7 linked regions of the Homo sapiens genome follow. The protein of the gene in region 1 purifies or fractionates together with the protein of each later gene. This does not show direct contact. Each region holds a gene or a part of one and is shown in the gene's direction. Other genes may lie near its edges. The genes, in order: ANGPTL7, HELZ, PCK1, PALD1, ACSL1, CAMK2B and TXNDC11.

What was found.
Region 2: the proteins of ANGPTL7 (region 1) and HELZ purify together in Homo sapiens (affinity purification with mass spectrometry; one large-scale study listed by BioGRID and IntAct). This does not show direct contact.
Region 3: the proteins of ANGPTL7 (region 1) and PCK1 purify together in Homo sapiens (affinity purification with mass spectrometry; one large-scale study listed by BioGRID and IntAct). This does not show direct contact.
Region 4: the proteins of ANGPTL7 (region 1) and PALD1 purify together in Homo sapiens (affinity purification with mass spectrometry; one large-scale study listed by BioGRID and IntAct). This does not show direct contact.
Region 5: the proteins of ANGPTL7 (region 1) and ACSL1 purify together in Homo sapiens (co-immunoprecipitation; one large-scale study listed by IntAct). This does not show direct contact.
Region 6: the proteins of ANGPTL7 (region 1) and CAMK2B purify together in Homo sapiens (affinity purification with mass spectrometry; one large-scale study listed by BioGRID and IntAct). This does not show direct contact.
Region 7: the proteins of ANGPTL7 (region 1) and TXNDC11 purify together in Homo sapiens (affinity purification with mass spectrometry; 2 studies listed by BioGRID and IntAct, with this or other methods). This does not show direct contact.

The regions. Positions count from the first base shown.
Region 1 is NC_000001.11:11,192,256-11,196,994, forward strand, and holds the end of ANGPTL7 (angiopoietin-related protein 7 precursor), read left to right. Parts: intron 1-14; coding exon 15-115; intron 116-1,324; coding exon 1,325-1,519; intron 1,520-1,911; coding exon of another isoform or gene 1,912-1,989; exon of another isoform or gene 1,990-2,154; intron 2,155-2,205; coding exon 2,206-2,404; intron 2,405-2,598; coding exon 2,599-2,768; 3' UTR 2,769-3,726; downstream 3,727-4,739. UniProt on the Homo sapiens protein: Has a role in the formation and organization of the extracellular matrix.
Region 2 is NC_000017.11:67,238,401-67,242,512, reverse strand, and holds part of HELZ (probable helicase with zinc finger domain), read left to right. Parts: intron 1-3,023; 5' UTR 3,024-3,080; intron 3,081-4,112. UniProt on the Homo sapiens protein: May act as a helicase that plays a role in RNA metabolism in multiple tissues and organs within the developing embryo.
Region 3 is NC_000020.11:57,563,815-57,566,682, forward strand, and holds part of PCK1 (phosphoenolpyruvate carboxykinase, cytosolic [GTP]), read left to right. Parts: intron 1-354; coding exon 355-579; intron 580-667; coding exon 668-799; intron 800-1,225; coding exon 1,226-1,321; intron 1,322-1,535; coding exon 1,536-1,990; 3' UTR 1,991-2,868. UniProt on the Homo sapiens protein: Cytosolic phosphoenolpyruvate carboxykinase that catalyzes the reversible decarboxylation and phosphorylation of oxaloacetate (OAA) and acts as the rate-limiting enzyme in gluconeogenesis.
Region 4 is NC_000010.11:70,565,527-70,569,322, forward strand, and holds the end of PALD1 (paladin), read left to right. Parts: intron 1-1,054; coding exon 1,055-1,207; 3' UTR 1,208-2,924; downstream 2,925-3,796.
Region 5 is NC_000004.12:184,773,760-184,777,871, reverse strand, and holds part of ACSL1 (long-chain-fatty-acid--CoA ligase 1), read left to right. Parts: intron 1-888; coding exon 889-988; intron 989-1,209; coding exon 1,210-1,388; intron 1,389-2,456; exon of another isoform or gene 2,457-2,502; intron 2,503-3,996; coding exon 3,997-4,029; intron 4,030-4,112. UniProt on the Homo sapiens protein: Catalyzes the conversion of long-chain fatty acids to their active form acyl-CoAs for both synthesis of cellular lipids, and degradation via beta-oxidation. Preferentially uses palmitoleate, oleate and linoleate.
Region 6 is NC_000007.14:44,217,323-44,221,434, reverse strand, and holds part of CAMK2B (calcium/calmodulin-dependent protein kinase type II subunit beta), read left to right. Parts: intron 1-533; coding exon 534-609; coding exon of another isoform or gene 610-613; intron 614-724; coding exon 725-819; intron 820-1,140; coding exon 1,141-1,373; 3' UTR 1,374-1,375; intron 1,376-1,912; 3' UTR 1,913-4,112. UniProt on the Homo sapiens protein: Calcium/calmodulin-dependent protein kinase that functions autonomously after Ca(2+)/calmodulin-binding and autophosphorylation, and is involved in dendritic spine and synapse formation, neuronal plasticity and regulation of sarcoplasmic reticulum Ca(2+) transport in skeletal muscle.
Region 7 is NC_000016.10:11,732,376-11,736,487, reverse strand, and holds part of TXNDC11 (thioredoxin domain-containing protein 11), read left to right. Parts: intron 1-254; coding exon 255-471; intron 472-2,408; coding exon 2,409-2,506; intron 2,507-4,112. UniProt on the Homo sapiens protein: May act as a redox regulator involved in DUOX proteins folding. The interaction with DUOX1 and DUOX2 suggest that it belongs to a multiprotein complex constituting the thyroid H(2)O(2) generating system.

The DNA.
Region 1 (4,739 bases):
TTGTTCTCTTGTAGATGCCATCTACGACTGCTCTTCCCTCTACCAGAAGAACTACCGCATCTCTGGAGTGTATAAGCTTCCTCCTGATGACTTCCTGGGCAGCCCTGAACTGGAGGTGAGGTCATTACAGTCACTGGCCATGCCCTAATACCTGTCCTTCACCCCCTCAAGGGGACTACAACAACAGGGCCATTCACAGTTTAAAGAAAGGAAAATTCGGCTGGGCGCAGTGGCTCACACCTGTAATCCCAGCACTATGGGAGGCCGAGGCAGGTGGATCACTTCAGGTCAGGAGTTTAAGACCAGCCTGGCCAACATGGTGAAACCCTGTCTCTACTAAAAATACAAAAAAATTAGCCAGGCATGGTGGTGGGCACCTGTAATCCCTGCTACACAGGAGGATTGCTTGAACTCAGGAGGCAGAGGTTGCAGTGAGCCGAGATCACGCCACTGCACTATAATCTGGGAGACAAAGTGAGACTCCATTTCAATTAAAAAAAAAAAAAAAAAAAAGGAAAACTCAAACACAAGCAAACACACCAAACACCACAGAGCTATGCAAACACTCAGTTTATGCCCTGCACTCCAAACCCAGGCATCTGTTTGGCCCCTTCAAATCATTATCAGTCAAACAACAAGCCTTCTAACATAGATCAGATCATTCTTATAACCACCACATAACTTAGTTTAAATCTCTTGCCATGTCCTAGAACAGCTATTCCTTGGGGGAGGAGAAAAGAAAACACGAAGGCAGCATCAAATTATCTGGATTTTCACCCAGGCATGGTGGCTCACACCTGTAATCCCAAGTTTTTTGGGAGGTGAGGTGGGCGGAACAATCACCTGAGGTCAGGACTTTGAGACCAGCCTGGCCAACATGCTGAAACCCAGTCTCTACTAAAAATACAAAAATTAGCCCAGTGTGGTGACAGGCACTCTGGTCCCAGCTACTAGGAAGGCAGGAGAATCACTGGAACTCAGGAGGTGGAGGTTGCAGTGAGCCGAGATTGCACCACTGTACTCTAGCCTGGGCAACAAGAGTGAAATTCTGCTTCAAAAAAAAAAAAAGTATCTGGATTTTTCCCTCCAAGCTTCATGTGCACTCACCCCCGGGCCCAATTTGCATCGTTCTTCCAGAGCAATGCACCACCCACCCCAGCTCACCAGCAGTGGGGCAGCATCACTGCCCGAGTGAGCCAGTGTGACTGCGGGAGTGCACACATCTACTGGCTCTGCAGGGACAGGAACAGGTTGGGAAGCCTGCCCTCTTGCTCCTGCCTTCTGCCCCTGCAAGTCCCTCACCAGAGTATCCCCTCTGCTTCAGGTGTTCTGTGACATGGAGACTTCAGGCGGAGGCTGGACCATCATCCAGAGACGAAAAAGTGGCCTTGTCTCCTTCTACCGGGACTGGAAGCAGTACAAGCAGGGCTTTGGCAGCATCCGTGGGGACTTCTGGCTGGGGAACGAACACATCCACCGGCTCTCCAGACAGCCAACCCGGCTGCGTGTAGAGATGGAGGTAAGCACAAGGCCAGGGGCCCCATGACTGGACCAGTGCCACCACACATGACCGCGTACAACTCCGGGGGTGCCATTCCTATTCTGATTCAAGACAAATCTGTATATTCATTGTGATGGTTTTCCTGCAAGTTGTAATGGAGTTGAGGAAAAATAGGTATTTTTCCTTTCTGCAACCCCCCCAACCCCCCGACAAAAGTGGGGCTGCAGGTGGGACAGGAAGAGGCCAGACCCAGGCCAGAGTAGAGCAAATTCAACAGTCAGCTGTGCCGAACACTAGTCTCTGCTCTGGCCGAGCATGAGGTCCTTTAGGTGCAAATCTTACTGATACTGTTTGGGGACCCTTGCTGAAGGTCTGAAAGCACTCACTATATCCTCATGTTTCTCTTACAGCAGCTCTGTGTGGGATTCAGCAAAAACATAGCTGCACCTTATAAGCAGGAAAGTGAGGAATATAGAAAGAGAGACTAATCAAGGCCATATGGTGAATCAGGAAAGAAGTTCGAGCCTTGTTTTCTGATTCCCAGGTTAACACAGTAAACTGGAGGTAAACAAGTAATAAAGTCTTATTAGATTCACACCTATAAAAAGATGTTTGGCTATGGGACTGTCAGGAGAGAAGGGGTATAGAGACAGCATGAAATGGAGCCTGCTGCACTTTCTTTAAGGCTCTGCTCCTCCTGACAGGACTGGGAGGGCAACCTGCGCTACGCTGAGTATAGCCACTTTGTTTTGGGCAATGAACTCAACAGCTATCGCCTCTTCCTGGGGAACTACACTGGCAATGTGGGGAACGACGCCCTCCAGTATCATAACAACACAGCCTTCAGCACCAAGGACAAGGACAATGACAACTGCTTGGACAAGTGTGCACAGCTCCGCAAAGGTGAGATTTGGGGGGACCGGAAAGGAGAAGTTCAGGTACAAGCTCATAATCCCACTTGAGGAGAAAGAGTGAATTATAACTGTACAGTTGATATTCCGGTTTTGGTATTCTTTCTGACCCTGGCTCTAACTCCTTACCTGATGTCTGGTCTATCACAGTCAACTTACTAGCACTGGGTCTGTTTCTCATGCCAGGTGGCTACTGGTACAACTGCTGCACAGACTCCAACCTCAATGGAGTGTACTACCGCCTGGGTGAGCACAATAAGCACCTGGATGGCATCACCTGGTATGGCTGGCATGGATCTACCTACTCCCTCAAACGGGTGGAGATGAAAATCCGCCCAGAAGACTTCAAGCCTTAAAAGGAGGCTGCCGTGGAGCACGGATACAGAAACTGAGACACGTGGAGACTGGATGAGGGCAGATGAGGACAGGAAGAGAGTGTTAGAAAGGGTAGGACTGAGAAACAGCCTATAATCTCCAAAGAAAGAATAAGTCTCCAAGGAGCACAAAAAAATCATATGTACCAAGGATGTTACAGTAAACAGGATGAACTATTTAAACCCACTGGGTCCTGCCACATCCTTCTCAAGGTGGTAGACTGAGTGGGGTCTCTCTGCCCAAGATCCCTGACATAGCAGTAGCTTGTCTTTTCCACATGATTTGTCTGTGAAAGAAAATAATTTTGAGATCGTTTTATCTATTTTCTCTACGGCTTAGGCTATGTGAGGGCAAAACACAAATCCCTTTGCTAAAAAGAACCATATTATTTTGATTCTCAAAGGATAGGCCTTTGAGTGTTAGAGAAAGGAGTGAAGGAGGCAGGTGGGAAATGGTATTTCTATTTTTAAATCCAGTGAAATTATCTTGAGTCTACACATTATTTTTAAAACACAAAAATTGTTCGGCTGGAACTGACCCAGGCTGGACTTGCGGGGAGGAAACTCCAGGGCACTGCATCTGGCGATCAGACTCTGAGCACTGCCCCTGCTCGCCTTGGTCATGTACAGCACTGAAAGGAATGAAGCACCAGCAGGAGGTGGACAGAGTCTCTCATGGATGCCGGCACAAAACTGCCTTAAAATATTCATAGTTAATACAGGTATATCTATTTTTATTTACTTTGTAAGAAACAAGCTCAAGGAGCTTCCTTTTAAATTTTGTCTGTAGGAAATGGTTGAAAACTGAAGGTAGATGGTGTTATAGTTAATAATAAATGCTGTAAATAAGCATCTCACTTTGTAAAAATAAAATATTGTGGTTTTGTTTTAAACATTCAACGTTTCTTTTCCTTCTACAATAAACACTTTCAAAATGTGAGTATCTTCTTTTTAAATTCTTACCATTACCACTTACAGCAGGATAAAAAGTTAAAGTTAAATCAGAGGGTGAGCAGTGACAGAGGCCCGGGGTTTGTTTTGGTGTTCAGGGCAACCAAGCGGGGAGCAGAAGCCAAAAGGGAACAGGTAAGGGACAAAAGGGCAGCAACCAGGACAATTCTTCATAAAGGGGATTACACGTCTGGGGCTGGGCAGTGAAGGCATCCAGCCTTATCAGACCCTCTATTCTACTTAGGATAGAGAAGCAAAAACAGGCCAGCAGACCTTACCCTAATGCTCGGGGCTAACCAAGTAAAAGTGGTGTGTGTGCGCTTTCTAACAAATAACCACTCAATCCTCTGTCCCCAAGAAAGCAAATATATTTACTGATATGTGAGCTTTAAGGAGATGGGGGTAGTTTATACTATCTCAGTGTTAGCCCTGATTTGGGATTACATCTCGGATTTAATTTGCCCTGTAGCAGATAGGTTAAAAAAGTCAATAGGTTGCAAGACGGATTGAACTAGTAGCAAGAGAACAATACTGTCAACAGAACACAGTTTTTTAAAGCAAAGACAAAAAAATAAGAAATAGCTGCACGCGGTGGCTCACGCCTGTAATCCCAGCACTTTAGGAGGCCGAGGCGGGTGGATCACGAGGTCAAGAGAGTGAGACCATCCTGGCCAACATGGTGAAACCCCTTTCTACTAAAAATACAAAAATTAGCTGGGCATGGTGGCATGCGCCTGTAGTCCCAGCTACTTAGGAAGCTGAGGCAGGAGAATCGCTTGCATCTAGGAGGTGGAGGTTGCAGTGAGCCAAGATTGTGCCACTGCACTCCAGCCTGGAGACAGAGCGCGACTCCATCTAAAAAAAAAAAAAAGAAAAGAAAAGAAAAGAAATAGCTGAACAAAGATGTTTTTGTGTAGGGCTACCCTAATTGTTTCAAAAAGAATTTAGGGAAGTTGACTCAAATGTATATACTAAAATAAGCTCTGAAAAAGCAGACAACTT
Region 2 (4,112 bases), on another chromosome or scaffold:
TATGTGTGTATAGATATGTGTGTATATATGTATATATGTGTATATATGTGTGTATCTATGTATATAGATAGATAGATTTTTTTTCTTTTTTTTTTTTTTTGAGACAGAGTTTCACTCTTGTTGCCCAGGCTGGAGTGCAATGACGCGATCTCAGCTCACTGCAACCTCTACCTTCCAGGTTCAAGCAATTCTCCTGCCTCAGCTTCCCGAGTAGGGATTACAGGCTTACGCCACCACACCCGGCTAATTTTGTATTTTTAGTAGAGAGAGGGTTTCACCATGTTGGTCAGGCTGGTCTCGAGCTCCTGACCTCAGGTGATCTGCCCGCCTTGGCCTCCCAAAGTGCTGGGATTACAAGCGTGAGCCACCATGCCTGGCCTTATCTTTTTTCTTGAAGCCTACAGATAATTTTGTGGAAAGGAGCCAGTGGTCTGCTTTTTGACTGTGGAGATGTTTGTTTGTAGTCTAAAATGGAATACTTAGAAGTAGGTAATCTTGTGTGGCTAGTGTTGTTTGACCTGAATTGTGTCAAGACATTTTCCACAGTTCTCACACATGTAGACTCTGTGAAGTGTTAGTATTCATTTCAAAGCGAAGTTAGTGGTTGGCCACTGAACAACTTGTTACACAAAGTATTCTAAAATGGGAAATGCCATAGTATTGAAGGTTGTGGTGAGGTAGAAGTCTGTGTCTCTGAGCTGAATAAAGACAGAGCTTTTTTAGTCTGTCCTTTTGGCTGGGAAGCTAGGACACTATTTTTAGGTAAGGCTGTAGTTTTTGGGAGTAAGTACCTTTCTATTAGCTGGTAAACTTGATTATTGCATTTGTTAACAAGAAGTTTTATTTTCTAATGCCATAGATATTAAAATGCATTGTCTTAAAGTTGGTATATATTTATAGACTGTCCAGTTTTCACTGGAAGAGGAGTGATGCCAAAACAACAGGAAAAGTCATTTTTACTTGCAAAGGGCCTCGTGTAATTAAAAAATCTACAGCATATTCATGAAAGGCTAAGAATAGTGCAGAGGGACCTACAAGTAAGTAGCCCAGATCTTACAGATGCATGTGTTCTCTATTTAAGCAGTAGGCTTGGCATTAATATTGAATGTAGATTAGTCTATAATTGTCTGTCAGAGACCCTAAGATCCAAATACAGGCCCCATACAAGAAATAAGGACCTTTGCCTGTTGTTTCAAATGTATAGAAGATTTCGGGCCAGGTGTATCAACAACAGTTATCCAAGAGATGGGGAGGAACTACTTAAAAAATTATAAGCAAATTTTTAGGTTTAATTTTCATAAACTTAGGTGAATATACATGCAGATGTAATTGGATTTCTAAGTAATGTTTTGAAATGTTTTCTAGAAGAAAAGTGATACAAGTGGAGAGTATGCCATACTATCTTACCATTCATTTCAGTTGATGAGTGCAGTCAGGGTTACTTCTGTAGCATTGGCTAGAAGCAGCATATAACATGATGGTTTATTGCTTTGAGGGTGGCTGGGATAATAGTTTTCAGTAATCTTGAATCTGTTAGAAGTGAATATTCCTCTTTTTAAAAGACCACTGTAGATGTAACAGGAAGAATTTTATTTATATATACATGTAATAACTATTTTGGTCAACTTTTAATTATTCAAAAGAAATGGAAAGTTTTTCAACTAATACCAACAGTCATACCAACTTGTTTACTTTTGTGAATTGTACTGGGTCAGTTTCTCCAAGTAAGAGCAGGAAGTTGTTTGGTAAAGCAGAGTGTATACATATATCTTGTCTTTGAACAAAAAAGAACTTGATTCATCGTCAGGTTCTTCAAAGAATGCATGGCATCTTTGTTGACTGAACTATTCTGAAGTGTGAATGTTTGTGATTTTTGTCATTTCTGTGCTATATTTTAGGTGTTCTTGTCACATCTGAATTTGCCTTTTTGCTTCCTTCTGCAGAAATTATCTTTGTTGTGATGAAAATGTCCTATAATGCGAGCTTCCTGTCAGTAGGCAACGTGTTTAACTAATACAGTTTTAAAAAATTATTTACTTTTATGCAAAACTCCTGTATGCTTATGGTAAACAAATTTGAGCAGTACTTATGTAAAGTAAAAAAGGTTAAAAAAAAGAAAAGCCTCTGTTCTTCTTCTGTCTCTAGTCCTGCTCCCTTGAGCTGAATCTGGCAAACAGCTGGGTGTCATTTAGCTTTTGGAAGACCTCTCTATTCCTGAGATATTCTGGCAGTGTGGAAGTAGAGTGAGAAGTCAGAAAAGGCATGGTCATTGAACCAGAGTTTGGATGTTGTGCAGGGACTATTCTGTTCTTATTTTCTGTGATAAGTAATAATGATAAACTACCATCAGCTTAAGATAACTGTAATTTGAATTGTGAAACATGAAAACAGTTAGTTCTTTAGTCAGGTTGGTAAAGTTTTGATTTGTTGATCTTTTAAAAGAAATATGCATGAATTGAATTCATGTAATGTTAGGGCTGGTGGGGGTTAATGGTAGTAATGAATTACCATCTGTTGAATTTTAGGATAAGCTGCACAGTATATTTACTATAGGCTTTTTATAACTCATCATCTCCTTTAATTCTCATAGCAACTCACGAGATAGTTATTTCCATTTTACAAAGGAAGAAATTCAGGCTTAAGTGTGACTCAACTAATGTAACGTCACGAGACCAGTAAAGTAGTGGAGCTGGTGTTCTTCCTGGAAAGCCTGTGCTCTTCTTTCTCTAGCTAGTCTAAGTGACTTATTTTCCAGATAAGGAAATATAGGCCTGAAGAAATTAAATGAGTTGCTCAAGGTCACACAGCTCAGTAGTAGCAACATTAAACCAAGCTTGTTTTTAATCTTTGGAGGCTTATCTCAAGACTCTTGGTCTAGTGCTGGTCATGCTACATTTTATTGAACTAGTGTGGACCAAAAGACCATATGCTGGGAATATTGGATACAAATGCTTTGGAACTGATATCTTGGTGAATGGTGTTTTCTACTATGTATTAAAAAAACTTTCTTCTTTGTCTTTCAGAAATTATAAAGAGCTCTGATGGGCTATTTGGGTGATACCCAGTGCAGTGAACTGCAGGTGAGTAAGGTTTAGAACTTTATTTAGAAAACAAGAATTTTATAATGCCTGAAAGAATAAGGTGGGACAAGGGTGAAGTGATACAGGGCTGTAGTGAAACAGTGGTAACCTGAAGGCACAGATCCTAACGGAATCGGTTACTTCTGGAACAGACTGAATGATGAACAAGCTCCGAAGAGACTGCCTGCTGCCTTGTCAGGTTAGTGTGTGAAATGAGTGAGGGTAGGTTAATCTTCCACTTCTGTTCAGATGAGTAACTGCATAGGGGCTCAGCTTATCTGCGTGCTATTGGAACTTGAGAGGTCCTTCAGTTTTTGTGTCAGCATTCTTGAGTGGCGATTACTTTGTGCTCCAGTGAACTTGGTTAAGTATTGAATTGTTTTTCCTGTTATCTGCTATTTACATAGTGTCATGAATGACTGTATATATCTGCAGTTTTGAGGATCTAAATATGGAGAACATATCAATAGAAACAAAAGGTTGAACTTTTTTTCCTAGTGGTTGTACTACCTCTATTGATACTATTAGTCTTTCAGATTATTTACTTTTTGCTGAAATACCTGTTAATTAAAAACAGTTTAGTCTTGAGTATTTATTATTTCACAGTAATTAATCTTCTTGGTCAGCTATGGTGTCTTCGTCTTTCATTATTACACTTAGAAAATGGTAATACTACAGAAATAAATTAGAAGGCTTTTAATACTTTCCTTATGAGGCATCAGAGTTAAAATTATTATTATTTTTTTGAGACGGAGTTTCGCTTTTGTCACCTAGGCTGGAGTGCAATGAATGGCACGATCTCGGCTCACTGCAACCTCCGCCTCCTGGGTTCAAGCAATTCTCCTGCCTCAGCCTCCTGAGTAGCTGGGATTACAGGCGCCCGCCACCATGCCCAGCTACTTTTTGTATTTTTAGTAGAGCCAGGGCTTTACCATGTTGGCCAGGCTGGCCTCAAACCCCTGACCTCAGGTGATCCACTCGCTTCGGCCTCCCAAAGTGTCAGGATTACAGGCGTGAGCCACCGCACCCGAC
Region 3 (2,868 bases), on another chromosome or scaffold:
TGTTTGGATTTTTAAACTCTGTTAGTCCAGAGTTGGCCAAGCCTTAGAAATATGGATCCTGTAAGAATTCTTCAACTTAATATTCAATCTGGATTGAAACTGGGCCATATGTTGCTGTTTGTTTACATACATACATTTGTTTAAATGGTATTGGTGGAAAATTGTGGAGGAAGCAAGAGTCGTAAACGTATCAAAGTTGCATATGATGCTTGGATGAAAAGAGATAAATGCATATTCTAGGGAGGGAAAAAAGATTTGAGAAGTTGGCATAGAAATTAGTCCGGCAATATATAAGAGTATATGTTCTGCTTTGCCTGGCACTCACTACTGCTTCTCTGGTTTAAAACTCTCCAGGTCATTTAAGGGCCATCAACCCAGAAAATGGCTTTTTCGGTGTCGCTCCTGGGACTTCAGTGAAGACCAACCCCAATGCCATCAAGACCATCCAGAAGAACACAATCTTTACCAATGTGGCCGAGACCAGCGACGGGGGCGTTTACTGGGAAGGCATTGATGAGCCGCTAGCTTCAGGTGTCACCATCACGTCCTGGAAGAATAAGGAGTGGAGCTCAGAGGATGGTGTGTCCCTGCCAGAGGCCTTGGTGTGCCGGGCTGCAGGGACTGCCTGTTTGAGCCAGGCACTCACGAGCCTTTCTCTGTCTTATAGGGGAACCTTGTGCCCACCCCAACTCGAGGTTCTGCACCCCTGCCAGCCAGTGCCCCATCATTGATGCTGCCTGGGAGTCTCCGGAAGGTGTTCCCATTGAAGGCATTATCTTTGGAGGCCGTAGACCTGCTGGTGAGGCTCTCCTTCATTTAGGCTGGGAACATGGGTGTGCTGGGTACCGAAGGGCATCTGTGAAATCTCTCCTTTTCCATGACCTTGTCAGAGGGTGCCCAGGGGCTTCCTTTCTTGAGCTTCCTTCCCAAAGATCCAGAATAATTGGCAAGTTCAAATGTAGAACCAACCCTTCTGGTCACCTGGAACCTTTCTGAATCCCTGATCTATTGTAGCTTGATCAAATTTTACTTTTTACTTTGTGGCCTCAGTCATGTAACTTTGAGTTAGCAGTTTTCTGCAATTTAGCTTGGTGAACGCAAAACTAGCTCGATTACAAAGTTATTGTCTTGCCGTGTCTTTCCGTGTTGTGAATAACACCACTGGTTGTGGAGTCTGAATTTCAAAGCCTCTGATGAACATTTCTCTTTTTTTTTCCTGCTAAAGGTGTCCCTCTAGTCTATGAAGCTCTCAGCTGGCAACATGGAGTCTTTGTGGGGGCGGCCATGAGATCAGAGGCCACAGCGGCTGCAGAACATAAAGGTAAATCAAAGTCCTGATCTGAAACCACAGAGAAGTGGGATTAGAGCACTCTTCGTCACTCTTATGTCTCTCTCCTTTTCTGTGTCTGTGTGTGGGGAGAGAGAGAGAGAGAAAGAGAGAGAGGAGAACAAAGCATGCTAATGTCAACAATCAATGGCGTCAGTCTTGCCTAGGAGAGCCTCATTTACTAATGAACTCCCTCTCTGTTTAACAGGCAAAATCATCATGCATGACCCCTTTGCCATGCGGCCCTTCTTTGGCTACAACTTCGGCAAATACCTGGCCCACTGGCTTAGCATGGCCCAGCACCCAGCAGCCAAACTGCCCAAGATCTTCCATGTCAACTGGTTCCGGAAGGACAAGGAAGGCAAATTCCTCTGGCCAGGCTTTGGAGAGAACTCCAGGGTGCTGGAGTGGATGTTCAACCGGATCGATGGAAAAGCCAGCACCAAGCTCACGCCCATAGGCTACATCCCCAAGGAGGATGCCCTGAACCTGAAAGGCCTGGGGCACATCAACATGATGGAGCTTTTCAGCATCTCCAAGGAATTCTGGGAGAAGGAGGTGGAAGACATCGAGAAGTATCTGGAGGATCAAGTCAATGCCGACCTCCCCTGTGAAATCGAGAGAGAGATCCTTGCCTTGAAGCAAAGAATAAGCCAGATGTAATCAGGGCCTGAGTGCTTTACCTTTAAAATCATTCCCTTTCCCATCCATAAGGTGCAGTAGGAGCAAGAGAGGGCAAGTGTTCCCAAATTGACGCCACCATAATAATCATCACCACACCGTGAGCAGATCTGAAAGGCACACTTTGATTTTTTTAAGGATAAGAACCACAGAACACTGGGTAGTAGCTAATGAAATTGAGAAGGGAAATCTTAGCATGCCTCCAAAAATTCACATCCAATGCATAGTTTGTTCAAATTTAAGGTTACTCAGGCATTGATCTTTTCAGTGTTTTTTCACTTTAGCTATGTGGATTAGCTAGAATGCACACCAAAAAAATACTTGAGCTGTATATATATATGTGTGTGTGTGTGTGTGTGTGTGTGTGTGTGTGTGCATGTATGTGCACATGTGTCTGTGTGGTATATTTGTGTATGTGTATTTGTATGTACTGTTATTGAAAATATATTTAATACCTTTGGAAAAATCTTGGGCAAGATGACCTACTAGTTTTCCTTGAAAAAAAGTTGCTTTGTTATTAATATTGTGCTTAAATTATTTTTATACACCATTGTTCCTTACCTTTACATAATTGCAATATTTCCCCCTTACTACTTCTTGGAAAAAAATTACAAAATGAAGTTTTATAGAAAAGATGGATTTGCTTTGCTTGGTTTTTCTTATTTGAGCTACCAAGAGGAGAGAACTCTGATTAAATATCTTGTGATTTAAATCCTGCCCCCTCCCCAAGAAGGTGGGGACGTTCAGAATCACACTTGAAGAGGGGGTGCATTGCCTGGTCCCAGGGAGAAGGAGGGAGCAGATGGGGAGGAATGAGGCAGGGAACCATGGTTGGGGTTTTCTGAATTTGCTGAAGCCAC
Region 4 (3,796 bases), on another chromosome or scaffold:
ACCTGGCCAGAGTGGGCACAGGAAGGGTATGGGGGCTGAGGCAGGTGTGAAGTGGACTCAGGGCTATGAAGGAGTGGAGGCAGAGTGGCAGGCTTTGAGGGTGGGCCTTGGGACGTCAGGTGGAGAAGCATTTGAAATGCCCCCGGTGCATGTGATGTGTGTTGAGTCGGGAGACCTGATGGGGTCACACCAAGGCCATGTCGGGGTGCCTTCTTGAGCAGGCCTGGGCTCAGCTTCCTCTGCGAGCCCCTGGGGAGGGGTGGAGGTGGAAGGGGATGAGGACACTTCCTGCTTGGGTTCTGCTTGGAGAGCAGAAGTTGGGGGAGCCTGGGGCCGAGAGGAAGCTTGATCCCCTCCCCAGCTGAATCCCCCACTGGGGCTGGGGGAGGTCAAGAAAGGAGGGCTGCCGGTCCAGGCAGAAGTGTGGGTTCCAGCCTCGGGACCTCAGCCCCTCTCTCCTGCGGATGAGTGGAGGGTAGCAGTGAGGGAGGCCCCAGAGCGGGACGGACCCATTCCTTTGTTCTAAGTGGAGGCTGCACCCTCCCCTTCCCCAGGATGGTGGAGAGAGAAGGGGACTGGTTGTGGATGGTTTGAGTCTGGTGCCAGGGTCTGGGCTGCTGGGCGGCAGGGCTGAGTGTCCAGGGGTGCCTCCAGCTAGCCCACCTGGGGCAGAGGCCATAGCCTTACCTGCCCCTGCATCCACGTTCTTCCTCCAGCCCTCCCTTTAGGCCCTGCTCCTGGGCGTCCACGTGGGAGCATCGAGCTGCACAGGGCCCAGTGTGTGCCTGGCCTCCCTCGCTGCTATCTGTGTGGAGCACTCACTGTCTGCCCAGTACTTTCTGTATGTGTAGAGTCCTCCTTGAGACAGTCCTGTGAGGTAGAGTCTTTTCCTTGCTATGAGGAAACTGACGCTCAGAGAAGTTAACAGAAGTCAAGGTGCAAACTTGTTCAGGTCACCAAGTTCACAGGCCACAGACTCATCTTCAGAACTCAGTGGCCTTAGTGGCACCCTCCCTCCCCTGAAACACTGCTCCTGCCTCTGCTCTCCTCCCAGGTGGCATCGAAGGCTGGCATCTACGAGATCCTTAACGAGCTGGGCTTCCCCGAGCTGGAGAGCGGGGAGGACCAGCCCTTCTCCAGGCTGCGCTACCGGTGGCAGGAGCAGAGCTGCAGCCTCGAGCCCTCTGCCCCCGAGGACTTGCTGTAGGGGGCCTTACTCCCTGTCCCCCCACCCACAGGGCCCCACGCAGGCCTGGGGTGTCTGAGGTGCTCTTGGCTGGGAGCGGCCCTGAGGGGTGCTGGCCTTGAAATGATTCCCCCACTTCCTGGAGAGACTGAGCGGAGTTGGGAGCCTTTTTAGAAAGAACTTTTTATAGGACAGGGAGACAGCACAGCCATCCCTTGCAAACCACCAAGGTGTGTGGCTGACCTCCAGGGAGGAGCACTCACTGGAGTGCTCACAAGGTGCACACTGCTGTGTGTACCTTGCAGACAGGCCGGCGTTCAGCCTCCAAGGGGCTCACTCCCCCAGTTGCCAAACACTGTGGATCTCTCTGTCCTCTTCTCCCCTCTCTCAGATTGGCCTGGCAGCCCCTGGCACAGAGCAGACCCGGCCACTGGTAGCTCCCCACTTCCTTACTCCTGCTGCTCTGCCATTGCCGCTCCCCTTGTTGCTGCCCAAGCACTGCCCTCGGGCGTCTGGCAGCCTGAGGTGGGTGGAGGGGACAGTGTTCTGGATAGATCTATTATGTGAAAGGCAGCTTCACCCAGTTTTCTGGACTCTCATGCCCCCATCTCCGACCTGGGAGACTTCAGGAATGACAACCTACCCAGCCTGGTGGGGCTGGCAGGATGGTGGAGGTTTCTCAAGGAGCTGGAGACTTCAGGGAGCCCCTCTCATGGGGAGGAAAGAGCTTCCAGGGGGCGAACGCAGCACAGAGGAAGAGGCCTGCTCCACTTGTCTGGGAACCTGGGCAGGAGGCACAGAGGAAGCCAAGGCCTGGAGCTGCAGGTCCCCCGGCATCTCTCTCTGTCCCGGCAGCCCAGGATGGCCTGGTGCCCCCACCTGCTGCAGCAGGAGCCCCAAGGAGTGCTAGCTGAGGGTGGTTGCTGGGGTGGTCCTCATGGACAGTGAGGTGTGCAAGGGTGCACTGAGGGTGGTGGGAGGGGATCACCTGGGTTCCAGGCCATCCTTGCTGAGCATCTTTGAGCCTGCCTTCCGGTGGGAGCAGAAAAGGCCAGACCCTGCTGAGTTAGAGGCTGCTGGGATCCACTGTTTCCACACAGCGGGAAGGCTGCTGGGAACAGGTGGCAGAGAAGTGCCATGTTTGCGTTGAGCCTTGCAGCTCTTCCAGCTGGGGACTGGTGCTTGCTGAAACCCAGGAGCTGAACAGTGAGGAGGCTGTCCACCTTGCTTGGCTCACTGGGACCAGGAAAGCCTGTCTTTGGTTAGGCTCGTGTACTTCTGCAGGAAAAAAAAAAAAGGATGTGTCATTGGTCATGATATTTGAAAAGGGGAGGAGGCCGAAGTTGTTCCCATTTATCCAGTATTGGAAAATATTTGACCCCCTTGGCTGAATTCTTTTGCAGAACTACTGTGTGTCTGTTCACTACCTTTTCAGGTTTATTGTTTTTATTTTTGCATGAATTAAGACGTTTTAATTTCTTTGCAGACAAGGTCTAGATGCGGAGTCAGAGATGGGACTGAATGGGGAGGGATCCTTTGTGTTCTCATGGTTGGCTCTGACTTTCAGCTGTGTTGGGACCACTGGCTGATCACATCACCTCTCTGCCTCAGTTTCCCCATCTGTAAAATGGGAGAATAATACTTGCCTACCTACCTCACAGGGGTGTTGTGAGGATTCATTTGTGATTTTTTTTTTTTTTGTACAGAGCTTTTAAGCATTAAAAACAGCTAAATGTGAGTGCACCTGGCTGCTAATATGTCTTTAGTGTCAGACAGACGTTCTAGAACTGGTACAACAGGCTGAGGTCCCTGCCCCTTCAGAGTAAGGGTGGGCAGGCAGAGTGAGTTGAGAGCACCTGTTCTTGGCACTTCCAGCTCTAGAGCAGGCGGGTTTTTGCAGACACGCATCCCCAGTTTTGCCTCACCCTCTTACACTGGATGTCAGGCTGAGCTCCTCCTTGAAGAAAGCAACGGAACCAGCGAATTCTCACTAACATATGAAGGATTGCTGCATCTAGGGAAACAGTATAGAGCAAAGTGGAATTGGGGGCCTGTGAAGGAGCCTGGATCTCAGCCTCCACTTTCTCCCCTAACCCCTGTGGGCCCCACCTGACCCCTTTGGGCCTCTGGTTGATTGAACACACCTCACCCCTGGTTGAGTGCTGGCATTTAAAGAGTCAGTGGGGAGGGTGGGGTAGAGACAGCACTGACTCCAGGCCTCTTCCCCCATGCTTGCAGGGTTAGGGGAACAAGGTTGTAGTTCCGAGGTCAGCTGGGGTGGGCAGAATGGAACCCAGAGCCCCCACCGCCCCTAGGGTTGGTGTTCTCCCCAGACTAGGAGAGAAGGCCCCGGGGGTTCTTTCCCAGCCCAGCAGGGTATGGAAGTTGTCTTCTCTAGGTGCAAGAATGCTCTGTGTGGCTTCTGGACACCAGTGTAGAGCTGTGTACACCGGGGTGGGGTGGAGGGGGGTGGGGGTGGGGGTGGCTCTGCCATTCTCTCCCTGGGATGTGGGGACACACAGGAGTGAGTGGGTGTGCCTGTGTGTGTTCCCAAGTTCCCCTGGGCCTGCTGTAGCCTGTGGGAGGACGCTTAGCAATGACATGAATGGC
Region 5 (4,112 bases), on another chromosome or scaffold:
AGATCGCTCTCACTACCCCTGCTTTTGATCCTGCCATCCCCTCTGTTAGCATCTCCCTGCCTCCCTCTGTCTCTGTCTCTCTCTCTCTCTTTCTTTCTCTTTCCAAAGGCAATCTCAGTTACACCCTCCCAGTAGCATCTGTAGCTACCTTGGCCGATGGTGGGCTTTCTTATCTCTGGGTCAGTCCCTGTCTGATAATTATTGCTAATTATCTTTTAACATATTTGCCTCAATTCTTCAGGCGGATTTTAATTTATCTTTCTTTCTCTCTTTCTCTCCTTTCCTTTCCTTCCTTTTTTCTTTTCTTTCTCAATCTCTCCTCTTTCTCTCTCTGTCCTCTCATCTTTCTTTCTCTCTCTCTCTTTCCTTCCTTCCCTCCCTCCCTCCCTCTCTTTGTACATGCATACATACATACATACAGGATCTCACTCTGTCACCCAGGCTGGAGTGCACTGGTGTGATCACAGCTCACTGCAGCCTCAACCTCCTGGGTTCAAGCAATCCTCCCGCCTCAGCCTCTCAAGTAGCTGCGACATGGTGTGTGCCACCATGTCCAGATAACTTTTGTAGAGGCAGGGTTTTGCCATGTTTCCCAGGCTGGTCTTGAACTCCTGGGCTCAACTGATTCCCCCAACCTTGGCCTCCCAAAGTGCTGGGATCACTGGTGTGAGTCAGTGTGCCTGGCCTTAATTTCTTTTTAAGAAGGGGGCATGTGTTTTGTTCTCATTCTGAATCCCTTATAGCACCTGGCACAGAGTAGTAGCTAACACAGATGTTAATTTTGCTGCGTCAAATGTTTTCACTTTGAATCTCTCTTGAGTATTGTTCTCCTTATTGATTACATGATGACATCCTGTTTTCTCTCCCTGACCTTTACTGTTTGTTTAGTGGGTGATTATTGAACAAGGATGCTTTGCTTATTCGATGGTGATCGTTCCACTTTATGATACCCTTGGAAATGAAGCCATCACGTACATAGTCAACAAAGGTACGTCTGTGATCTTTGCCTGGATTATTGGCATAGTTATTGGTTAGGTTCAGTGACTTTACATTTGCTTACATTTGATTTGACAAAGATTTTACATGTAAATATATATCTACCTTTTTATTCAAAGAATGTAGTACTTCAAGTATCCTTGTGCTGGATATGACAGAGTGAATCTTTTAACATCCCAGAGCTTATTCTTCATTGTATCTCTTCATTTACAGCTGAACTCTCTCTGGTTTTTGTTGACAAGCCAGAGAAGGCCAAACTCTTATTAGAGGGTGTAGAAAATAAGTTAATACCAGGCCTTAAAATCATAGTTGTCATGGATGCCTACGGCAGTGAACTGGTGGAACGAGGCCAGAGGTGTGGGGTGGAAGTCACCAGCATGAAGGCGATGGAGGTGAGTGCCCTGCCTCCTTCCCTTCTCTGAAGGCTTTCCCTGGGGCCGTGTTGGCTCACACGTGCTATCCAGTGCTATCTAGTGCTATGGTGCAGTCCCAGCGCTGGCCGGTTGCCTCCGCAACCCATGAAAGAGAGCAGAAACTTCTGTCTCATTGCTGGAAAAAGGATTCTACATGTGTGCCCAGTGTTAACACCTCACACCTTACCCAAGTGCTTTCAGCACTCCAATATTTATTCCAGAGCACTGACAAGCTGTGCCCGGAAATGCCAGAAATGGGAATTACAGCTTCAGGCAGGTGGAACTTTCAGTTTCTGTGTCTCCTTTGGGCTTTAATGCCTTTTACTTACTAATTTGTCTCTAATGCCAAGCCAAGTATAGAAATCAGCCTCATCGTTCTTTTCCCTGGATGGCTCGTGGAGAGTCTTGGTGAATTTCCAACATGCATGTTTGATTTGGTTTGTTTTCATATTGACTCTTAAGAGTCATACCAATCACAAGTTTAAAGGCAGCCATTCCAGGAGAATGAGCGTGGTGGTCCATGCTCAGCTTGGGTGCTTGATGTCAGATGATATAAGAAGTTGATCCCCGTCAGTTGGACTTGGATTAGAGTTCCATCCAAGGAACATGGCCGGAGGAAGATCTTTTCATATACATATCATAACAAGTCATAGGAAAACAGAGTCAGTCCTTCTCTTTCTGAAGGTGTTAGAAATATTTTTCTGAAACTGTTATAGATAGGATTTTAAATTTTTATGTGTAGTTTTCCTCCTCCTACAAAGAATTTGAGGCTATAAGTAAGGATCTGTAGAACCTTTCCTGAGGAACCCAGTAGGCACAGGGAAGCGCGGGTGTTCTAACAGAACCTTCTCTCTTGTGCATGTGTGCGCCCCTGCCCAACTCTCTCTCTCAGTAGCATCGAACGTGATTCCGCAAGTGCTGACCCGGGTGCTTCCTTGTTGAATTGGGGTTTTATAGCTTCTTACCTAGTGTTTCCCCACTTCTGTTTTTTTACTTTTAACCCTCTTTTACTATAATGTAATCTCTTTTTCCCTTACCTTCCCACAGATGCAAGAATTTTTCTGGTGTTTTTTGACTGCTGTATGATAAAGAAGTAATGTTGAAATTTAAAAATTATTTAGTTGATTGAAGATTATAATATAAAGTTTATATTAAAATATTAATTTATAGAAGACATTGTTTTACACTTACCTGTTTAATATGATCTGTACTTAGTTTTTAAAAATATTCTGAGCAAAAGGTGAAGAGATCGCCCCACTGCACTGCAGCCTGGGTGACAGAGCGAGACTCCATCTCAAAAAATAATAATAATTGCAGTATTTTTCCTAAGTGATACTGTAAGAGAGATGTAAGGCTGTGAAACTTTTGCGGCAACAGTGCACTAATTTGGATAATGTTTGTTCCCAATAAATTAAGAGCCAAATTGTATGTAACTGGTGCTTTATTTTATTTAACATCAGTTTTTGAAGAATTGGGCATCTCCAGAAGTTATGTAAGAATTTTTAATAGACAAATAGAAATCTGGAGCTAATAAAGGTTATTTTGAAAAAAATGTACAGAATTATTGCTTTAGCTTTTGGCTGACCTCTAATTGGATATATTAGTTCCTGTTCTTAATCGGTGGTCTGTCACTACATCATTTAAAATGTAATTAAGATTGAAAACTTAATGTATGCTGGGCAGAAACTCACTAAGCCCTGAGCACACCCATCTAATTTCCACGTGAATTGAACATGTTCAATGGCGTGTTCAATGGCATGTTCATTCCATATCCTCATTCAAGCTGTTCCATTTGAATAGGAAAAGAATATAAATAGTTCATTTGTTAAAATTAATAGATATTAAAGTGGCCACCAAGACTGCCCTAATGCAGTAAACCGAACCCCATCAGTGGTAGTGACTGGAAGCCTGCCGCTGGGAAATGCTGTCCCCGCGCAATGCTTCTGTCATTCTTAACCTTCAAGTCCATTCAGGAAGGAGTCTTAGAGGGTCTGCTGTGGCCTGTTTTATAATTGGGGGCTCCCAAATCCTATCTCCACTCTACGAGGGGAGATATTTGAGCAGATATTTGAGCCTCTCCAAAATGCCTAGCATTTCAATCGAGCAGAGATTGATTTTTCTTCTTCCCAGATTGCAGATGTCAGTTGTGCAGAATGTGGGGGTGAGGTAGTGCTGTGCTCTGATTTGAGGAACCTACGAAGTATCTGCAGTATCTCGTTATGGTTAAGAACAGGGCTTTATTAAAGGCCCTAATAAGAAGTGGAAGTGGGGACCAGAAATGCATGGTAAAGACTTTGGCTGCTGTTTTTTTAATACATCCTATTTCAAAGACCAGTCCTAATACCGTTTATGTAGTTTTATGTAAGAGAAGAGGTAACTGGAAAATGGCTTCTCAGAACAATGAATAAATATTTTGGTTCTGGTTAATTAAAACTGCCATAGTTTCTTTAATTAGAAAATTATGCTGTTTTCGAGCCAGGTGTGAATGAACCCCACAGTAAAGCCAGCTTTAAGTGACTCGATGTGACCTTATCCTTTACAGTTAGAAAACGTTTCCATTTAAGACTTTTTTTCTCTTCTAATTAAGGACCTGGGAAGAGCCAACAGACGGAAGCCCAAGGTAAGCACACCGTGTCAGACCCTGCTCTGTCCTCTTTGTAGTTTTCAATATCTAGCCTGGTACCTTGTGGCTTATAGTTCTCT
Region 6 (4,112 bases), on another chromosome or scaffold:
CTCTGAGGCAGGTCTCTGCCTTCTCGCCTGGTGCCTGCACTCAGTAGCCCCCTCACCAGAGCTGCTGGGTGAAGGAAGCACTAAGAACCCAAGGCTCGGGAGGAGAGTGGGGCCGGGAAGCTGCAGGGAAGCGCAGGGCCAGGCCTGGTGGGCCCAGGGGCTGGCTCACGGGAGGGCAGGAGGGAGACTGTGGCGGACAGCACGTGGGGCCAGGAGGTGACCTCCAAGTGGATTGTGGGTGGGTTTTTTGTCCTCTTTCTGCATTTTCCAGGCATTTTGTAATGTGGATAGAATATTTCTGTTCTTCAAAAATACTTTAGTTAAGAAAAATAAGATGGAAGCTGTTGCACTTGAAAATGAGGAAGCCACTGGTGATGCAGGGGGGGCGGCGGAGAGGACCTCTTCTGCAAATAGCGGCAGGAACACGGCATGGATGCAGCTCGCGCTCCCCCAGGCCCTCCCCTGGGCTGTGTGGAGGGGTCCGGGGGGAATGGGCCAGCGCCCAGTGGTCACCTGGCCATGTCTCCCCACAGCCCGGAAGCAGGAGATCATTAAGACCACGGAGCAGCTCATCGAGGCCGTCAACAACGGTGACTTTGAGGCCTACGCGTGAGTCCCTGGGGCTGGGGGGGGGCTGTGCAGGACAAGGATGTGGGACCCTTGGGGGGGCCTGCTCAGAGTCAGGGGTCCACGGGGCCCCTCCTCACTTGGATTTGGCCCCCAGGAAAATCTGTGACCCAGGGCTGACCTCGTTTGAGCCTGAAGCACTGGGCAACCTGGTTGAAGGGATGGACTTCCACAGATTCTACTTCGAGAACCGTGAGTGAGGAAGCCCGGGTGGGCATGAGGGGGCGGTGCCCCCAGGAGAGCCTCTCGGCCCCTCCCAGGGACAGCATGGTGGCTGCCTATGGAAGCCCTGTCCCCTCTGTGCCCAGGGTTGGCCAGCCACCTCTCCCCCGCCAGAGGCCATACCCAGCCCCCAGAATCCCACTCTTGGAGGGGCCCATGCTGCTCCCAGGAGAGCCGAGCCTCCCCAATAAGGGGAGTTGAGAGAGGGAAAGGATTAGGCTGGTGGGGTGGAAGACGGGCACCAGGGCAGTCATGGTAACCCGAGACCCCCGCCCCGCCTGCTGTCCACAGTGCTGGCCAAGAACAGCAAGCCGATCCACACGACCATCCTGAACCCACACGTGCACGTCATTGGAGAGGATGCCGCCTGCATCGCTTACATCCGGCTCACGCAGTACATTGACGGGCAGGGCCGGCCCCGCACCAGCCAGTCTGAGGAGACCCGCGTGTGGCACCGCCGCGACGGCAAGTGGCAGAACGTGCACTTCCACTGCTCGGGCGCGCCTGTGGCCCCGCTGCAGTGAAGGTGAGTGTTCTGTGCTAAGTGACAGCTGGGGCAGAGGGGTGGCGGTGGTGTGAGTGGCTGCAGCCTGGGGAGGCGATGGGGAGCGGTGGGGCCTGTGCAGAGCCATGCCTGGGAAGTCCCTGAGCTTTCCTGGTGAGGCCACAGGAATGATGTCAAATTAGGGACCACGGCAGGCTGGGTGTGGCAGGCCTCCCCAGAGGACTGGGGAGCTGGTGAGGGCCTGAGCAGTCCACACTGGCCAGAGCTGGGTGGGTTGCAGGTGGATGGGCCCCGGGCAGCACAGTCCTGGGCACCATGCCCTGTTTGTGAGGACTGTTAGAGCCCCAGATGGGCGTTCCCCAGGTGGTGGGTGCAGCGGGCCCAGAGCCCAGTTTTACAGGGATAGTAGTAATTGGGTTGGGCACCTTGAACCTCTCTCCCGAGTGGGCCCTTTTCTGGACTTTAACCCTCTCTGCAGTGCCGCATGGCAGACAGCAGAGCCTGGGGGTGGATGGGAGAGGGGGCTGCTGAGGAGCTGACCCACCCGCCCCATTTCAGAGCTGCGCCCTGGTTTCGCCGGACAGAGTTGGTGTTTGGAGCCCGACTGCCCTCGGGCACACGGCCTGCCTGTCGCATGTTTGTGTCTGCCTCGTTCCCTCCCCTGGTGCCTGTGTCTGCAGAAAAACAAGACCAGATGTGATTTGTTAAAAAAAAACAAAAAAAAAAAAAAAAAAAACAAGATGACGACGACAACCACAAAAAAAATTGACATCAGATGAAATGAAAAAAAAAAAAAACAAAAAAAACTAAAGGAAGGAAAAAGCTGTAAAAATCACTGGCATTCGTGGGGCCACTCCCCACCCAAGCTCCACGTGTGTCCGTCTGTGCTCCTGGCCTCTGGGGGACCAGCTGGGACATGAACTTGTCTGCCAGGCCCCCGTCGCGTGCTGAACGGTGTTAGTTTGTAGGTAACGCACACACCCCACACCTAAGGTGTCTGCATCCTCCTGCCAACGCATGGGCTCCACGTGGTGTGCTCGCTGGCTGTCGTGACTGTCAGCTGTCTCTTGGGAGGGGCTGTGGGGGCCCGCTGGGCTGCCTCCTTTCCCGCTAGTTGTGCCTGAGAGTTGCTGTTGTTCCTGCTTTCCCTTCCCTTCCTTTCATCCCCTGAAGGGCTAGGTGTGGGTTTTCCGTGCCCGGTATCCCCACACACCCAGCACGGACAACCCTTCGGCAGAGCCCAGGCCGGCCCCTCACCCCCTGGAGTATTGAAACTGGAGTCCCGTCCCCAAGGCCTTCAGAGATGCCCCTACACACCCAGGGCTCCAGCTCTGGTCCTTCTGGGGGAGTAAAGTGCAAAGAGGGGCACAGCTTAGTTTTGGGCCTCTCGCCGAGCAAGAGACAGCACTGCTGGCTACAGCTCCAACACAGCCAGCTGTGGCAAGAGGACTCTGCCTGGGCTGGCCCCCCTCCTGTGTGAGGTGTCTGTCCCTTCTCTGCTGGCCAGCAGCAGATGCACTGGCAGCTCCCAACCCTGTTTCCGCCCCTCGGCCCTCCCCCAGCCTGTTCGGCTTCTCTGCAGCCCGCAAGGGGGAGCAGACTTTTGACAAAGGACTGCGGGCCTCGCTCAAGTCCCTGAGCCCCCAGCTGAAGCTGGGAGGGGAGGCCAGGCTTTGTGTCTGGGCATATTCGTCTGCTGATGGGGTTTGGGGAAGCCTGGGGCTTGGGGTTTGGTCGGGTGGTGCAGCTAGTGGCAGAGCGGGATCAGAGGTGGTGGCTGCCCAGCTTCTGGGCTGAGACAAGGGTCTGTGCAGGGGTTTACTGAAGTGGGAGTGCCTTTGGAATCTGGGCCGGGAGCAGAAGGGAGCAAAAGCTACAGTGGGAGCCAGCCTAGGGCACATGGGAGGCGTGAGGGCAGTGCTGCCCGTGCAGTGTCAGGTGTGCCAGTGCCTTGGCGGGCTGCAGTGCGTGTGAGGGCACCTTCTAGGTGGGCCAGGGATGCAGCTATGGAGATAAGGCGGGCTGGGGACAGAAACAGGTGGGCACAGGGCCCAGGACACCAGCGGATGGAGGGCAGGGTCTAGCCCTGTGCTCCTGAGCGTCGGCTGCCTGGGTTCGAGGCGGTGGGTCCCCGGCCCCTTGTGATGGTGTGTACCATGGGGGAGCTCGGGGACAGGGCAAGCCCGAGCATGGTGGGGCTGCAGGGTGGGTCTGAAGCCAGGTTGGGTGGGGGTGGTCACAAGCCCTGACTGCAGAGGGTCAGGGGCTCCTGCCCCAGTGCCTGCCCACTTTCAATTCACATTGTTTTCAACAAGGATTTTCTTTATCTTCCCCTACAAATCAAGCCAAGGGAGGGGCACAGAATGGGGAACAGGACACAGGATCCTAAACTCCAAGGGGACTGTCCACCGATGAACACTCAGAGTGGACACCATCTTCCGTCCACGCTGTGCCCAGGACAGCTGTCCCCATCCATGAACACAGGGTAAACATCTGCCGGGCTCCGCACCAGTGGCTCCCTGGGCCATGGGACAGCGGCAGGGCTCACCACGGACAGCACGTGGCCCAGCAGCCGGCCACCCTGGCGTCCTGGGGCCTCCTCCCCTCCTCTCCCTCTCACCTTGTCACCTCCACGGAGCTGCCTGTCTGGGATAATTTGGGGATTTTTTTTCTGGGGGATAATTCTTTTGCATGACCCCTAAAGAGCAAGCCACACCGGTCTGCTAGCTAGGTGTCCGCGGTGTGGTGGTGGCGGCCG
Region 7 (4,112 bases), on another chromosome or scaffold:
AGAGACATCCTTCTCTGCTCTCCACTGCCCTTCCAGCCTACACCTAGGGGACAGAATCTCAGAGAATTGTTTCCAACGTATTATTCATGTCTTGCATTTGCTCAGCCAGATGTTGCCTTTCTAGGGCAGTGATTTTGGGACTCCATTTTCTTATTCAAAAGAGGATTTTCCTTTTAAGCTTCATTCTACTTCCACAGAGCTATTTTTAGAAGAAGATAAACTAAGCAATCTTTTCTGTGTTTGCTCTTTTTTAGTCGAGCAAAAGATGTGATAATACCAGCAAAGCCACCTGTCAGCTTTTTCTCCTTGAGGTCTCCAGTCCTTGACCTCTTCCAGGGGCAGCTGGATTATGCAGAGTACGTTCGACGGGATTCAGAGGTGGTACTGCTCTTCTTCTATGCCCCTTGGTGTGGACAGTCCATCGCTGCCAGGGCAGAAATTGAGCAAGCAGCAAGTCGGCTTTCAGATCAGGTAATGCTCACATTCAGCTTAAGAATCAAATGACTGTCAGTCCTATATGTAGGGCAGGATGTCCCCACAGAGACACCTTGCCCAACGGGCAGACTTTGCCAAGGTGAACTCCAGGAGTCGTTTCTAAGTTACAGAGCTTTCTATAAAGCAACAGAAAGGATTTCCAATTGTGGCGATTGTACTCCAAGGCAAGTGTGGGAGCAGATTCTGAATCTCATAACACAAGCCAATGCTTATCCTGGGGTGCCATACTGTTTGGTTTCAGCATTGAAAAAGGTAGAGGGACTGAAAATCCTAGTTCTTGCATATCCATTTGATACTTGCTAGTTAGGTATTTTAGGTAAGAAAATGTATGTATGATATGACTGCATTGTAACAAGGCCGACCTTTTTAATATATGGACCAGAACTATATTCAGCAGATAAGGAATGCCACCTTTGGGCTAGGTAAGAAAGATATATAGGCAAATAAGTCACCTGTTATGGCAGTGGTTTTCAGCCCAGTGGACCCCAGTTGTGCTTTAGAAAATAAGTATTTTATGATGTCCCTTTTTCTTCCTAAAAAGGAATTCATAGATGATAAAGTTTTCCTATACATGTAATTTCAAAATAATCTAATGCACGGATTGTAACATAGAGGTGAGGGGGGAAGAAAGTAATTTGTAACTAAATGATATATATTTTAGTATGTAAGTGCACAGTCAGAACAGGTCCATATACCTTTATGTAGAATCACTGAATGGGATAGTTACAAACGTAGACTGATAAAGGTGATATGTTGGTGACTTACCTGCCACATGGACATTGCTCTTAGTAATTGATTATCCTAAATGGTGAACAGTCTTGGTAAAATCCTGAACTATGCAAAGCCCTTTCTGCTCTCAGTTTACATAGAAGTTGCATTCCTGAAAAATTCAGTGAACACAAAAAGCATGCTTTAGATTCACATGTAAAATGGAGCTAGGTACTGGGCTTTGATAATAACAGGTTTTCCCCAACATCAGTGTTTGGCAGGCGTTTTGAACTCCTCTGGAATGCTATGGACGACTCTTCCGTGTGCAAAGCAGGTTTGAGTGTAGCAGGACATCTACCAACACCCCTGCCCTACGTATGCACTGTAGCTTCCCCCAGTCATTGTAGCAAGCCAAAAGCATCCCACAGATTTCTAAGACTCTCCTGCTCAGAACCACTGATGTGAAGTAACGTGTGTAGGCAGCTGAGTTCCAGAAGTTCATTTGGAACTGTCATTTGGTTTTTCTTAGAAACTGTGGAGCCTTCCAAATTTAGAGAACAAAGTTCACGTTGCCCATGTTGGGCACAAGAGGGATATCTATTGTGTTTTATTAATAAGTGTGAATTAGCTACCTTACTGTCAGCCTAAGCAGTATGTCCTTCTGAGTGATGGCATTAGTATAATAATAATGATATTCTGGTGTGCCAGGCCCCATGCCAATTCTCAACCACTTTGCAAGGCGATGCTGTCAGCCCTGTTTTTCTGAAGCAGGACTGCAGGCATAAGGGGTGAAGCAGTTTGTTTACCATCACGTAGTGGTGGGGGTTGTAGTGCAATCCAGGGACTGCTGCTTTTTTTAAAAAAAAAATTTCAGCTCCTTCCAAATTGAGAGCTTACTATTCCATGTACTCAGTAGGGAAAAAAGTGGGTTTATTTTTGGAAACACACAGAAATCTTTTGAACTGTATTGCATGGTAAGATTGGTAAACACGGTCCAAGTCCTGCCTGGACATCATAGATAAGAGTATGTCTTTCTTTTTTGTTTTAGTGATAAATTATGACCTTTGAAAACTCAAAACAGTTTTTTTCATAGTTTCTGTTTCAGTGAGAGAGGAATCATTCTATTTTTAAATTTCATCTTTTAAATCTTGGTAACTTTTCAGTTGTTATTCATAGTCATTTGAAAACCTTTTTTGGCTCTGCAGGTGTTGTTTGTGGCAATTAACTGTTGGTGGAACCAGGGGAAATGCAGAAAACAGAAACACTTCTTTTATTTTCCTGTAATATATCTGTATCATCGGAGGTAAGAACTTTTTAAATAGCGTCTCTCATTCCAGTTTAGTTTGCCAGTTTATAAATGAATTTTGCATTTTTTCTATATTAAAGTATTAGATATTCACTATAGAAAATTCAGATAATACAGATAAGCAAAAATTAAAAAAGAAAGATCTGGATAATCCACCCCCCTTTTTAAAGCTAAACATGGGATCAGGCAGTAATACTATTTCCTAAACTGCTTTTCTCACTTTTTTGAGCATCTTTTCATGTCATTACACATTTTACAGCATTGTTTTTAAAAGTACGAATTACTCCAATGCATTTCAGATATCGTAAGAGTGTTTTGTAAAAATACACAAAATTTCTTATCGTTTCATCTGGAGGCATAGCAGAGTCCAGAGTGTATCTTACCATCTATTCTATTGGGAAGAAAATTACTACAAGTACACAGTCCCATGTCCACAATTCTTTTTTTTTTTTGAGACGGAGTCTCACTCTGTTGCCCAGGCTGGAGTGCAGTGGCGCGATCTCCGCTCACTGCAAGCTCGGCCTCCCGGATTCACGCCATTCTCCTGCCTCAGCCTCCCAAGTAGTTGGGACTACAGGCACCCACCTCCCTGCCCAGCTAATTTTTTTTGTATTTTTAGTAGAGACAGGGTTTTACCGCCCATGTCCACAATTCTAAAGTCACAAAGAGGGCTGAAAAACGGAAAGAGTTTTATTTTATCTTATTTTATTTTATTTTATTTTGAGACAGAGTTTAGCTTTTGTTGCCCAGGCTGGAGTGCAGTGGTGCAATCTCGGCTCACTGCAGCCTCCGCCTCAGGGTTCAAGCCGTTCTCCTGCCTCAGCCTCCCGAGTAGCTGGGATTACAGGTGCCTGCCACCACGCCCGGCTAATTTTTGTATTCTTAGTAGAGACGGGGTTTTACCATGTTGCCAGGCTGGTCTCGACCTAGGCTGTACTAGAGTACAGCCCAGACCCTGCTGTGAATGATAAGTAATGTCTAAAAATCTGACTCAAAGAGTTTTGGAGATAGGAGATAGGACTTTGGACTTTGTTCAGGGTGATTGGCTTGAAGTTTGTTGAAAGTAAAATGGGTAAAGGAGATTTGATCAGTAGAGAGCTTTCCTTTTTCCTTCTAAAGTTCTTGGGCCATAATCAATGGGGATTTATAGCAAACATGCACAAACAGTGATTTGTGGGTTCTCTGTCACATTCCATCCCATTTCCGTGTCTGTAACATAAACTGTTGTCTGGCACATAGTATTGACTCCCAGGAACTATTAGGTAGTATTTGGGCAAAAACACACTTTTCTACCCCATCTCTACCCCCACATTTTCCTCTGGATATTAGATGTTTGTATTTTAATATTTGTAGTAAGAAGCCAGTTTTTGCTTAGGGACCACTAAGACCATTTTCAGATTTCTTCCCCACTTTTTGGCCAGTAACTTGGAGGTTCTGCCTTTACATGGAAGGTTCAAGTACAGGTTTTTTCGGATACAGGAATACTTTCTCAGAGTTACTGTTTTTGTTTTAAAGGTAAGTGTAAGGTGGTGTACTTAACTCTGTGCTCTGTAACGGGATGGTGAGCTTGCCCTGCTGAGGTCCTTGCATTTCTTTTTGGCTT